Homo sapiens: one gene and its partners. The protein of the gene in region 2 binds, or shares a complex with, the protein of the main gene of each other region. Each region holds a gene or a part of one and is shown on either strand. Other genes may lie near its edges.

Region 1 (3,649 bases), on a different chromosome or scaffold from region 2:
GTGCCTGCTCTGAACAGGAAGCAAAGGCAACTATAAATGCCTATCACTGCCTAACTGAATCCAATGTATTACACCGCCTGTCCCATGCAGCTATGAGGGACTGCAGCTCTCACTGACTCATCAGATACTGTATCACTGCACAAACGGCAGCTTCTATGAATACCACACTTAGATTAAAACACCTTGGAAAGACAACAGTAAAGGAATATTGTTTCAAATTGCACTGCTATGATGCCTAGGTTGGTATCTACCTTAAAACATCCGACGTGGTTTTGGAGTCAAGAGGGTGTGGAACCCGCTGAGAATTCCTGGCAGGCAGAAGTTCGTCTGTCTGTGCTACTGAAATGTGGTGATGCAGCGAAGCCTGGTGAAAAAACAAAGAGAGTTACCTCTCTGGTCTAGACAATCACAGTGCAGAAGTGAGGGAGGCCATGTCTGCCAGAAGCAGATGCTCCCAAAAGTCCGTAGAAGTCAGGGTTTCTGTGAGTCTACAAATTTTAACCTGCTCAGTAACCCCCAAGGTAATCCCAAATAACTTCTTATCCTAGAGTTGGAAAAAAACAAAAAAAAAGCAAACTTTTTGGGCTTTTTTTGTCTACTACATTTTGTTTCTTCAATGGAAATAGTCTAGCACACACAAAAATACTATAATATATAATAAGGTCCCATGAATTGATATCGCCAAGATGCAACAATTATCAATATTCACCACTTTTCTGTTTTCATTTTCTTTTTCTGAATTAAACACAAATATTACCATCTCTATAAAACATTAAAAAAAAATAGCTGGGCATGGTGGTGTGTGCCTGTAGTCCCAGCTACTCAGAAGGCTGAAGCTGGAAGATTGCTTGAGCCTGGGAGGATGAGGATGCAGTGAGCTGTGATTGCACCACTGTGCTCCAGCCTGGGCAACAGAGCAAGACTCTGTCTCCAAAAAAAAGAAACAAACAAACCAACCCCCAAAAAACCCTCCCCACAAAAAAACAAATATTGTATTATTTTGCTTGTAAAAAGTCAGTAGATGTCTCACATAAGGACCTTTAAACATAACAGTAATTATCACAGAAAAATTAACAATGATTCCTTAATATTATCACCCCATCTGTAGGATAATGAGGAAGATAATGCTCCATTATCTCAAAAATGTCTTTTTATAATTGGTTTACTAAAATCATGAGCCAACATGATCTGTACATGACAAATGATTAAAGGCATGAAATGTCTACTGTCCCACTTGAAGTCACATGATTCATCACTGGGTTCAGGTGATACCAGGACACTACATCCATCATAAAGTTCCTCATCAACTTTTCACCTAATGGTTTTGGTATTACTTTACATGTAAAGGAGAGGCAACATATAAATGCTTCTTTCTCTTTATTTTTTTATTTTTCAGACTGAGTTGATGCTCTAGCAACAAATGATGACTGATTTTTTGTTTGTTTTCCAACACAATTATGAACCAAGGATTTGTTTCATTCTATCACTGTCATCATTTTTTTTAATGATCACACTGTCCCATCCTATCCCTGGACAACAGAGCTGCCCCCTAAGATGGCTCCTGAGGCCCTGCTGGACCATAATAATCTTTGGTAACTTTCTTCCTTTTAGGTGTGACAAGATGCCTCAGGTTCATTGTGAATATTTCCTGCTGCATATCTGGAATCAGTCATCTCTTCAAAGAACCACAGTTCCTTTAAATGACAACGGTGTGCAGGAACCACATTCGTGGCAACAGAGGTGTTTATTGCTGCTAAGCTTTTTCAGCAGACAGAGCTAAAAAAATGTGTATACTTTTTTAGAGAGGAAAAATAAATCTATGCTCATATTGATAATTCTAATTCAAAATAAAGAACACATGCATTTTTATAAACCTTCTTTGATTTTATAATAGTATGTTAAAGTCATTAGGAAAAGAACATTGCTTCACTGTCTAATAAGTTTTTGGTTTAATTTCCATCGTTTCTTTCTGAAAATATACACAGCTATGTGTGTACGTGTATATGTGTGTGAATGTGCATATCTTATAGATTACTCCATGGTAATCTCTACTCCACAGAATGATTACATAGAAATGGTCTCCATTTTGTTGTAGATGATTAATATTTCACTGTCTGGATGCACCACAGTTGATTCAATCAGTCCCTCACTGATGACACTTAGGTTCTTTCTAGTCTTGGACATATGTCATTTTCTGTTTTGGCAAAGAACCTTTGGGCTATTCCTTAGAGGTGGGATTGCTGCCCTGAAAGGGAAGTGTGTAGGGCTATATCATTCAGCAATCCCACCAACACCAGGGCCTGCTCCCCACATCTGGCCAACACAGTATGCTGCCAAATCTTTGTATTTTTGCCAATCTGTGGGCAAGAGATGGATTTCATTCTAGGTATTGCTGTTTTTAACATAAACTGCAAGTAGGGGATCTTTTGTTTTGAACCCTTAAAATTGGGATTAAAAGGTTCCAAGAAATATAAAGGAAGGAGCAAGTGTAAATGTGCGATGTTTTTAGCTGACTCTTACTCTTCTCTAATGAAGAATGTGAAGAGTCCCTGGCAGGGGAAGAAGAGGATGGCTGGTTATTATACCTTCGACACAGGCTTAACTTTACTGATAGTGATGCAATATAGACTTGGAGAAAGACCATCACATTGAACCCCATGCATCCATCCTAGATTTACCCTCTGGGCCCCACTGTTTCCTCCTTGGGCTACAGTGATTCATTTCTTTGTGACATGGTTTTGGGTCCTCCTAAATTCTACTCTCCACCTACAACTGTAATTAAAATTTCCTCAGAGTATAAGTAGATACAAGAGAAAAAAGGAACAGAATAAGATTATGGTGACTAAAACTGAAATTTCTAACCAAAATTAAATTTAAGCGTAAATCACTCATTCCTTGCAAACTTCTAATATGACACCAAACCAACCTTTAAGAAGAGAGGGCACTGGTTTTGAGCCTGGGGACACGATGACCAAAACCACTGGGGAAGATTCTCAGCTTTGGCAGTTGATACAAAATACCCAAGGGCCAGGGGCTGCTGCTTTAGCTCCTCTGGTGCTTCTCTAGAAAGAAGACGCTCACCCTGGCTCTGAAAAACAAAAATCCCAAAAACATGATCAGCATTTATCTTAAAGCTTGAAAAATGAACTTTCATCAGTTCACTCTGCACACTGCAGTGAGTGATCCCCTTTGTGGCAGCATCTCACAGAAAACAACAGGTGACTGAGAAAGGTAAGCGGGGCCAGCATCGTCTTTGCTGCACACATAGAGAAGATACCAGCAAAACTGACAGCCTCAGTCAAGTAAGTACAGATTTATTTGCTTGGGTTTCTTTTCTAAGGGATGTAAGATCTATTTCATGGCATTATGATGTAACAAACTAAAATGGAAAGATTACAATCTCTGACAGCAGAAGGCTCTACCACACGCAGGTGCTCTTTCACCAGCAACCAGCCAAAGACACACAAGCGCACCAGCCTGACCAGGACAATGTGACACCAGTATGTGCACAGCACAAAAGTTCCTGAGCTGCCAGTAGTGCAAGATCTGCTCACAGAGAAGCCATGTTTTCATTTGCAGCATTCCCCTTAATAAGAGACTCCTGGAAGAGGCTATGTTTTGCTGCAACTGACACTTTTCTTATCTTTTA
Region 2 (3,649 bases):
TATTTTAGCACTTCTGTGCCTTTCATCCTCCCCAGGAGATGAACTCCCTCTTGGAGAACATCGCCAAGGCCACAATCGAGGTTTTCCAACAGTCAGCAGAGACAGGGTCATCTTCTGGAAGTACTGCAAGCAACATGCCCAGCAGCAGCAAGACCAAGCCTGTGCTCAGGTCGGATAGAAACATGTTAGGACCCATCCCCTTAGGAGTTTATCTGCTGGTAGCGTGAGTGATATCAGATGCGTGGAGATGCCAGCATGTCCATCAGGGAAAGGAGAGGATAGATTGTTCCAGCCTTGCCTGGCTCCCCTGTGACCCTGTGTCCTCTGTCTGTTCTCCAGCTCTCTAGAGCGCTCTGGTGTATGGCTGGTGGCCCCCCTCATTGCTAAACTGCCCACCTCAGTCCAGGGACATGTGTTAAAGGCTGCTGGGGAAGAATTGGAGAAGGGTCAGCACCTGGGTTCCTCTTCACGCAAAGAACGTGATCGACAAAAGCAGAAGAGGTAAAGGGGCTTAGGGAGTGGACCAAGATTGAGGGGTAGAAAGGAGAAGAGGCAGGCCCGGGGAAGAATAAAATGGGCCAAGGAGAAGCATCATAGGAAAGTGGAAAATCAGAGGATAAGAGTGGGCATGGCTGAGCAAGAGGCTAGATCTTAAGAGAGTAGTCTGGAGAATGAGGTTGGAAGTTGACTCCCAACCCACAGTCTCCCTTTTCTCCTCTCCTCTTCTCTCCTCTTCTCTTCTCTTCTCTTCTCTTCTCTTCTCTTCTCTTCTCTTCTCTTCTCTTCTCTTCTTTCTCTTGTCTCTAGCATGTCCCTATTGAGCCAGCAGCCCTTCTTATCGCTGGTGCTAACATGTCTGAAAGGGCAGGATGAACAACGCGAGGGACTCCTTACCTCCCTCTACAGCCAGGTGCACCAGGTACAGATCTCTGGGCCATGGAGGTGGGCAGGAGGTCAGGGAAGGATGCACCTAAGGGGTTACTCTGTACTTGGAAACTTCAGTACTTTCTGATAAACATATTGGCTGCTGTGGGATGGAAACACGAAGATCCCTGAGCTGCATATTTTATTTGTTTCTATTCTAGATTGTGAATAATTGGCGAGATGACCAGTACTTAGATGATTGCAAACCAAAGCAGCTTATGCATGAGGCACTCAAACTGCGGCTCAACCTGGTGAGAAGGCCAGCTGGGGAGAAGAAGGAAGAGGGTAGGGCTGGAAATGCGGAGTGCAAAAGCCTCAGGTTGGGGAGAATGGGGGTAAGGATAGAGGCCCCAGGTTATTCTGAGTCTTGAAGGGTTTTTTTTTTTTTTGGAGTCAGAGTCTCACTCTGTCACCCAAGCTGGAGTGCAGTGGCGCCATCTCAGCTCACTGCAACCTCCACCTCCTGGGTTCAAGTGATTCTCGTGCCTCAACCTCCTGAGTAGCTGGGATTACAGGTGTGTACCACCACACCTGGCTAATTTTTGTATTTTTCATAGAGATGGGGTTTGACCATGCTGGTCAGGCTGGTCTTGAACTCCTTACCTCAAATGATCCGTCTGTCTCGGCCTCCCAAAGTGCTGGGATTACAGGCATGAGCCACCGTGCCCAGCCTGAGTCTTGAAGTATTAACCTTGTTCTCTGAAAGTATGCAGGGACTGAAAGTGGTTAAGGGGGCTGGATCACTGTGGTCATGGTCCAATAGGTTATGTACCCTGGATCCTTGCAGGGCCTCTGCCTCAGTATCCTAGATTCTGACTGGGCCCTAGAAGCACTGGAAACCCACTGTGGAATGTTGAATGGAATCCTGGAAATCATTCTGTCCAATTCCCATCACTTTCTAAGTATGGAAACAGAGGCCTAGAGACGTCAAGAATTCCGTCATTGTCTTGAGATCATGTAGCAAATCATAGGCTCAACTCAAGCATGGCCGGGCGCGGTGGCTCACGCCTGTAATCCCAGCACTTTGGGAGGCCGAGGTGGGCGGATCACGAGGTCAGGAGATCGAGACCATCCTGGTTAACACGATGAAACCCCGTCTCTACTAAAAATACAAAAAAAATTAGCTGGGCGTGGTGGCAGGCGCCTGTAGTCCCAGCTACTCGGGAGGCTGAGGCAGGAGAATGGCGTGAACCCGGGAGGCGGAGTTTGCAGTAAGCCGAGGTCGCGCCACTGCACTCTAGCCTGGGTGACAGAGCGAGACTCCGTCTCAAAAAAAAAAAAAAAAAAAAACTCAAGCATGAACTCAGGCGTCCCAACTCAGATTGGAACTAAGCTTTCCTGAAACTCTGGCCTTTGTCCCTGAGCCATCTGACTGACTTGTTGTGGCCCTGGCAGGTGGGGGGCATGTTTGACACGGTGCAGCGCAGCACCCAGCAGACCACGGAGTGGGCCATGCTCCTCCTGGAGATCATCATCAGCGGCACTGTCGACATGCAGTCCAACAAGTAAAGCATCCCCACCCGCTCCCTGCAGTTTCATACCCAAGAAGCTCCCCCTACTCCCATGCCAGGTGCACCCACTGAGATTGGTGTGGCTGTTACTGTGGACTCCGTGGCCCTGGGCTCCCCATACAGTTTTGGTGCCCTTGGGATGACATATTAAGCACCTCTCCCTGCTTGTGTCCTCTGCTGAGGCCTTTTTCTATCTTCACCTCTTTCTTCTTTGGTTTTCTCTCTGGCTTCCTGTCTCAGTGAGCTCTTCACTACTGTGTTGGACATGCTGAGCGTGCTCATCAATGGGACATTGGCTGCAGACATGTCTAGCATCTCGCAAGGTAGCATGGAGGAAAACAAGCGTGCATACATGAACCTGGCGAAGAAGTTGCAGGTAAGCAGAGGAAGCGGGGGCAAGGTTTGCGGTTACTGGAATCTGCTGTCCAGCCTCAGGAACTTGCTTCTGGCTGGAGCCCTCTACCTTTCCTTCTCACGTCTGCCTTTTCTTTGTTACTCATGCCGTGAGCATTTACTGAGTGGGGGTCTTCTCTGTGCCAGGTTCTGTGCTGTCCCCTGAGACTTCCCATCCCTGTTTTCTGTATCTCTGAACTCTTGTCCCATCTTCCTGTGCCTGCAGAAGGAGTTGGGGGAGCGCCAGTCAGACAGTCTGGAAAAGGTTCGCCAGCTGCTGCCACTGCCCAAGCAGACCCGAGATGTCATCACGTGTGAGCCACAGGGCTCCCTTATCGATACCAAGGGCAACAAGATTGCTGGCTTCGATTCCATCTTCAAGAAGGAGGCATGTTCCATTGTCTGCCCGTGTCCCTTGCCTTTTTTCCCCTTTGGGCAAGAACTTTGCCTGCATCAGCTTTGTAGCTCCAACAGACTCATCAGATTCAGGAGCCCATCAGTCTCTGCCGGTGAACACCATCTCTGGGGTTTTGAGCAAATCACTTAACTTTCCTTACATTTCATCTCCATCTTTGAAGTCCCACCCTCTTTCCTTCACCCTGCCCTCACCTTTTAACATACCACCCATTTTTCAATACCCTACCCTCCTCTTTCCTCTGCTCCACCTGCCCCATGTCCTACCCCACCCATCTATCTGGCCGACAGCCTGTATCTCTTTTATTTCTGTGTTTCCCTACACCCACCCATCTCTGCACACTTTTATCTTTTCCCTCTCTGTCAGTTGCGGTATTTGTTGAGTAACCATAATTATTGTGTATAGT
Region 3 (3,649 bases), on a different chromosome or scaffold from region 2:
TTCCTAAATGAGGGGGGACTTGAGGCAGGGAGAAGCTAAGCTGCTAAGTGGGGATGTGGGGCAGTGGGTGAAGAGCTGGGCATGGTAGGAACCGAAGCCTGGCATGGTGGGCACGTGGGGCGGTGCGTGAAGAGCTGGGCATGGCGGGGACCGAAGCCTGGCATGGTGGGCACGTGGGGCGGTGGGTGAAGAGCTGGGCATGGCGGGGACCGAAGCCTGGCACGGTGGGCACGTGGGGTGGTGGGTGAAGAGCTGGGCATGGCGGGGACCGAAGCCTGGCACGGTGGGCACGTGGGGCGGTGCGTGAAGAGCTGGGCATGGCGGGGACCAAAGCCTGGCATGGTGGGCACGTGGGGCGGTAGGGGGAGAGATGGGGGAGAGATGGGTGCGGTGGGGACTGTCCCAGTGACCCCCAGCTGCCAGGGATGTGAGACCTGAGAAAGGCTGTGGCATGTGTGTGAGACGTGGCTCTCGGGCGGGTAACAGCTGGGCCAGCAGGTGAGGACGGCTGCAGGAGACGAGGAGGAGTGTCGGAGCCCAGGACTGCCCAGTGGCTTGGCTGTGGGCAGATGGTAGACACAGACGTGCCCAGCGGGGGCACCGGGCAGTGAAGGTGCAGGTCTGTGCAGCCACACGGGGTGGCGCCAGGTGCTGCTGCAGGAGCCAGCGCAGCCCAAACTGCCTGGTGACTCACCACGAGGCCCAGGGGAAGGAATGAGGCCCAACAAGGCCCTGGGGACCGGGCGAAGGAACGAGCCCTGGGAGAAGGAATGGCAGCAGCCCTCTTCACCTGCCTGGTGACTCACTACAAGCCCTGGGGGAAGGAATGGCAGTGGCCCTCTTCACCTTTACTGCCTCTGCGGCCACAATGGGCAGTTGACATAACCACCTGCAGGCCCCGGGAGCCATCGGGGCCTCTTGACACGTGCTCATTAGTGGCTTCTGAGGAGCGCCTGCCCCACCTGCCCCACGTGCCCCCACGTCTGGCCACTCCAGGGTCCATTAGCGCTAATCGGCAAATGCCTGTGCTCTCATCTACCGGGAAAACATCTCCCTTCTCCAGAGCGGAGGCCAGCCTAAAAACCAGGCCCGCAGCCTCCGAGGCTCTGAAAACCAAGCGGCTGTTCTGGTCCCCGGTCATAGCAGGCGGGCGTCCCTGCTTCGCTCCAGCCCCAGGATTTTGTGCCGGAGGTGGGGATGACGGGCTTGGCTCCGTGGGTGCGGGGGGCCCATCGGGCGGATAGAGATGGGAATGGGGGCCCCAGAAGAGGCTGCTGGAGAGGTGGGGTGGGGTGGGGGGCGTGTTCTCAGCAGCCTCAGCTGACCCGCTGAGCCTTGGCTTCCTCTCCCTGAACCAGGTTCCGGAGGATTCCGTGCACCGCCCCTGCCCGGTCTGGCCTGTCCCCTGCTGCCCGACGGCCCCACCCACAGACCCACGCTCCACAGCCGCCCACACGCCTGCAGCCCCTCACGGTGTCCCCGCTGGCTGAGCAACGACACCTCTCAGCCTCGGCCTCGCACAGAATGGTGGCAGCCGCCGCAGCGGGCGTGGAAGGATGGAGGAGTCTATACGCCTAACACACTCAGAATGCTGGCAGGCGCGCGGTCACACCCGAGATCCTAGCACTACTGGAGATCGAGGCGAGACGATCGCTTAGGGCCGGGGTTCAGGACCACCCTGGGTGACACAGCAAGACCTGCCTCCAAAATAAAAACCAACCGCCCCCGAGGGCAGGCCCAGGGCCTCCGCAGCCGGCGGGAGACTCACCCACGGGGGAGATCTGCTGGAAGATGTTGTTCACGGGGAGTCCCTCCTTGCGCAGGGACCAGCACTCCACGATGCTGCTGGTCTGGCTGGACGCGCACAAAAGCACCTGCGGGGGAGGTGGGGGTGAGGGCTGACCCGGCACTGCTGTGGTGGCCACGCCACCACCGGAGCCTGAGCTGCGGGACCCTGGGGCCACGCACTGCTGGGCCTGTCTCTTCAGCCACGCCTGCCCCTCGGGCCCTCCTGGATTCCAGCCCAGGCCTGTCCCCAGAGCCCAACATCCACTCACAGGAACGCAAATGTCCCCGGATGGTGCCCTCCCACAGGGACAGCAAAGGGACACAGGGAACCAAGTCAGGGGCTTCAAGGAGTTTGGGGCGTTACTGATTCCTAATTACAACAGGAATCCAGGCGACCTGGTGTGGTCGGCTCAACAGTGGCCCCCAGAACATCCCATCCTCAGCCCTAGGACCGGTGGCTGGGCCGCCTCTCACAGAGAAGGGACCTGCGGGTGGGATTCGGTTCGGGACACTGAGACGGGAGAGCACGTTGGGGGGGGTCCGGGGGCCCCAGTGTCCTCACAGGGTCCTCAGGAGAGAATGTGGGAGGTTGAGATTCAGAGACAGGAAGAGGCTGCGCTGTGGCCACGAAGCGGGAGGAAGGCGCCCCGAACCGAGGGATTGGGCGCCTCCAGATGCTGGGAAAGGCAGAAAATGGGTTCTCCCCTGGAGCCCCCGGGAGGGACCGGCCCTGCCCACACCACGGTTTAGCCCGTGGAGGCCCGCGCGGGTCTCCACCCCCAGGACCCTGAGAAGCAGTGCTTCATTCCAAGCCTGCCAGCCCACGTGATGGCCTGCGCCCGTTCACCTGCTCCGACATGTCCCGGGCCAGGAACTTGAGGTGGGTGATGGCGGGAAACTTGTCCTTGCGGTTGAGGTCGGTGGTGCAGCGCATGAACAGGGAGGGCAGGATCTCCGTGTCGATACGGCACTTCTCGCTCACCACGCTCACGCACACCTTGTAGAACTGCACGGGCGACGCGCTGCTGCCGTCCGCCGTGGCCACCACGATGTTGCCGCCGCCGGTGAAGGCGATGTCGGCCAGGGCCACGCGGCCGCGCAGCCGGCACAGGCTCTCGGTGGACGTCAGCACCTGCCCGCTGGGCTTCAGCAGGGACACGGTGACCAGGCCGCTGACCGTCACCGCGATCCAGCCCTCCATGGGCTTGCCGCCGAACAGCGTGAGCGACGGTGAGAACTTGACTCGGGAGAACTTCTCCCCGAAGCTGGAGGCGCCCGACTGTGGAGAAGGGAGGGAGGGAGGAGGGGCCGCTCAGGCTCATGGGGGCTGCCCCATGACCCCCAGAAACACGCGCACAGAAGAACCACGCAGAAGCCAGGAGTGTGTGCACCTGGGTTCAGATCCTGACTCGGCCACCTGAGCCGTGTGGGATGTGATCCCCTCTGACCCTCCGTCTCCTCATCTGTAAGGTGGAAGGAACGGCACCTTTGCTTTAGAGGACAGTGGGGAGGATTAAACGGGTGAACGTGTGCGCAACGGGAGTCACCTCCCCTTTCTGTAAAGGGACAGACAGCAGCATGCTCGGTTCTGGGAGCCAGGTGGTCCCTGTTGCAACGACTTGGCTCTGGCTCTGCCGTGGCGGCACACAGGCAGCTGGTGCCAATGAGCCACACTCACAAACCCAGGCGGGGGCCGTCAGGCCCTGGGCCGCACTGTGCAGACCTGAGCTATAGCACTCAGGAAGTGCTGTGTAAGCACCAGCGGCTGCTGCGGGCACTATTTGATTTCAAATCAAATTTGTCAAGTCATTATTGACATACGGAAACATCCACCCTTCTTTCAACGTGAGTCTTTTAAAAG

The links.
Region 1: MED12 (region 2) and MED13L share a complex: the UniProt entries of both Homo sapiens proteins name them as parts of the mediator complex.
Region 3: MED12 (region 2) and MED16 share a complex: the UniProt entries of both Homo sapiens proteins name them as parts of the mediator complex.

Annotation. Positions count from the first base shown.
Region 1 is NC_000012.12:115,963,156-115,966,804, forward strand, and holds part of MED13L (mediator of RNA polymerase II transcription subunit 13-like), read right to left. Parts: intron 3,089-3,649; coding exon 2,927-3,088; intron 365-2,926; coding exon 252-364; intron 1-251. UniProt on the Homo sapiens protein: Component of the Mediator complex, a coactivator involved in the regulated transcription of nearly all RNA polymerase II-dependent genes.
Region 2 is NC_000023.11:71,132,038-71,135,686, forward strand, and holds part of MED12 (mediator of RNA polymerase II transcription subunit 12), read left to right. Parts: intron 1-35; coding exon 36-169; intron 170-339; coding exon 340-501; intron 502-807; coding exon 808-919; intron 920-1,085; coding exon 1,086-1,175; intron 1,176-2,319; coding exon 2,320-2,429; intron 2,430-2,675; coding exon 2,676-2,811; intron 2,812-3,054; coding exon 3,055-3,216; intron 3,217-3,649. UniProt on the Homo sapiens protein: Component of the Mediator complex, a coactivator involved in the regulated transcription of nearly all RNA polymerase II-dependent genes.
Region 3 is NC_000019.10:883,135-886,783, forward strand, and holds part of MED16 (mediator of RNA polymerase II transcription subunit 16), read right to left. Parts: intron 3,068-3,649; coding exon 2,636-3,067; intron 1,875-2,635; coding exon 1,769-1,874; intron 1-1,768. UniProt on the Homo sapiens protein: Component of the Mediator complex, a coactivator involved in the regulated transcription of nearly all RNA polymerase II-dependent genes.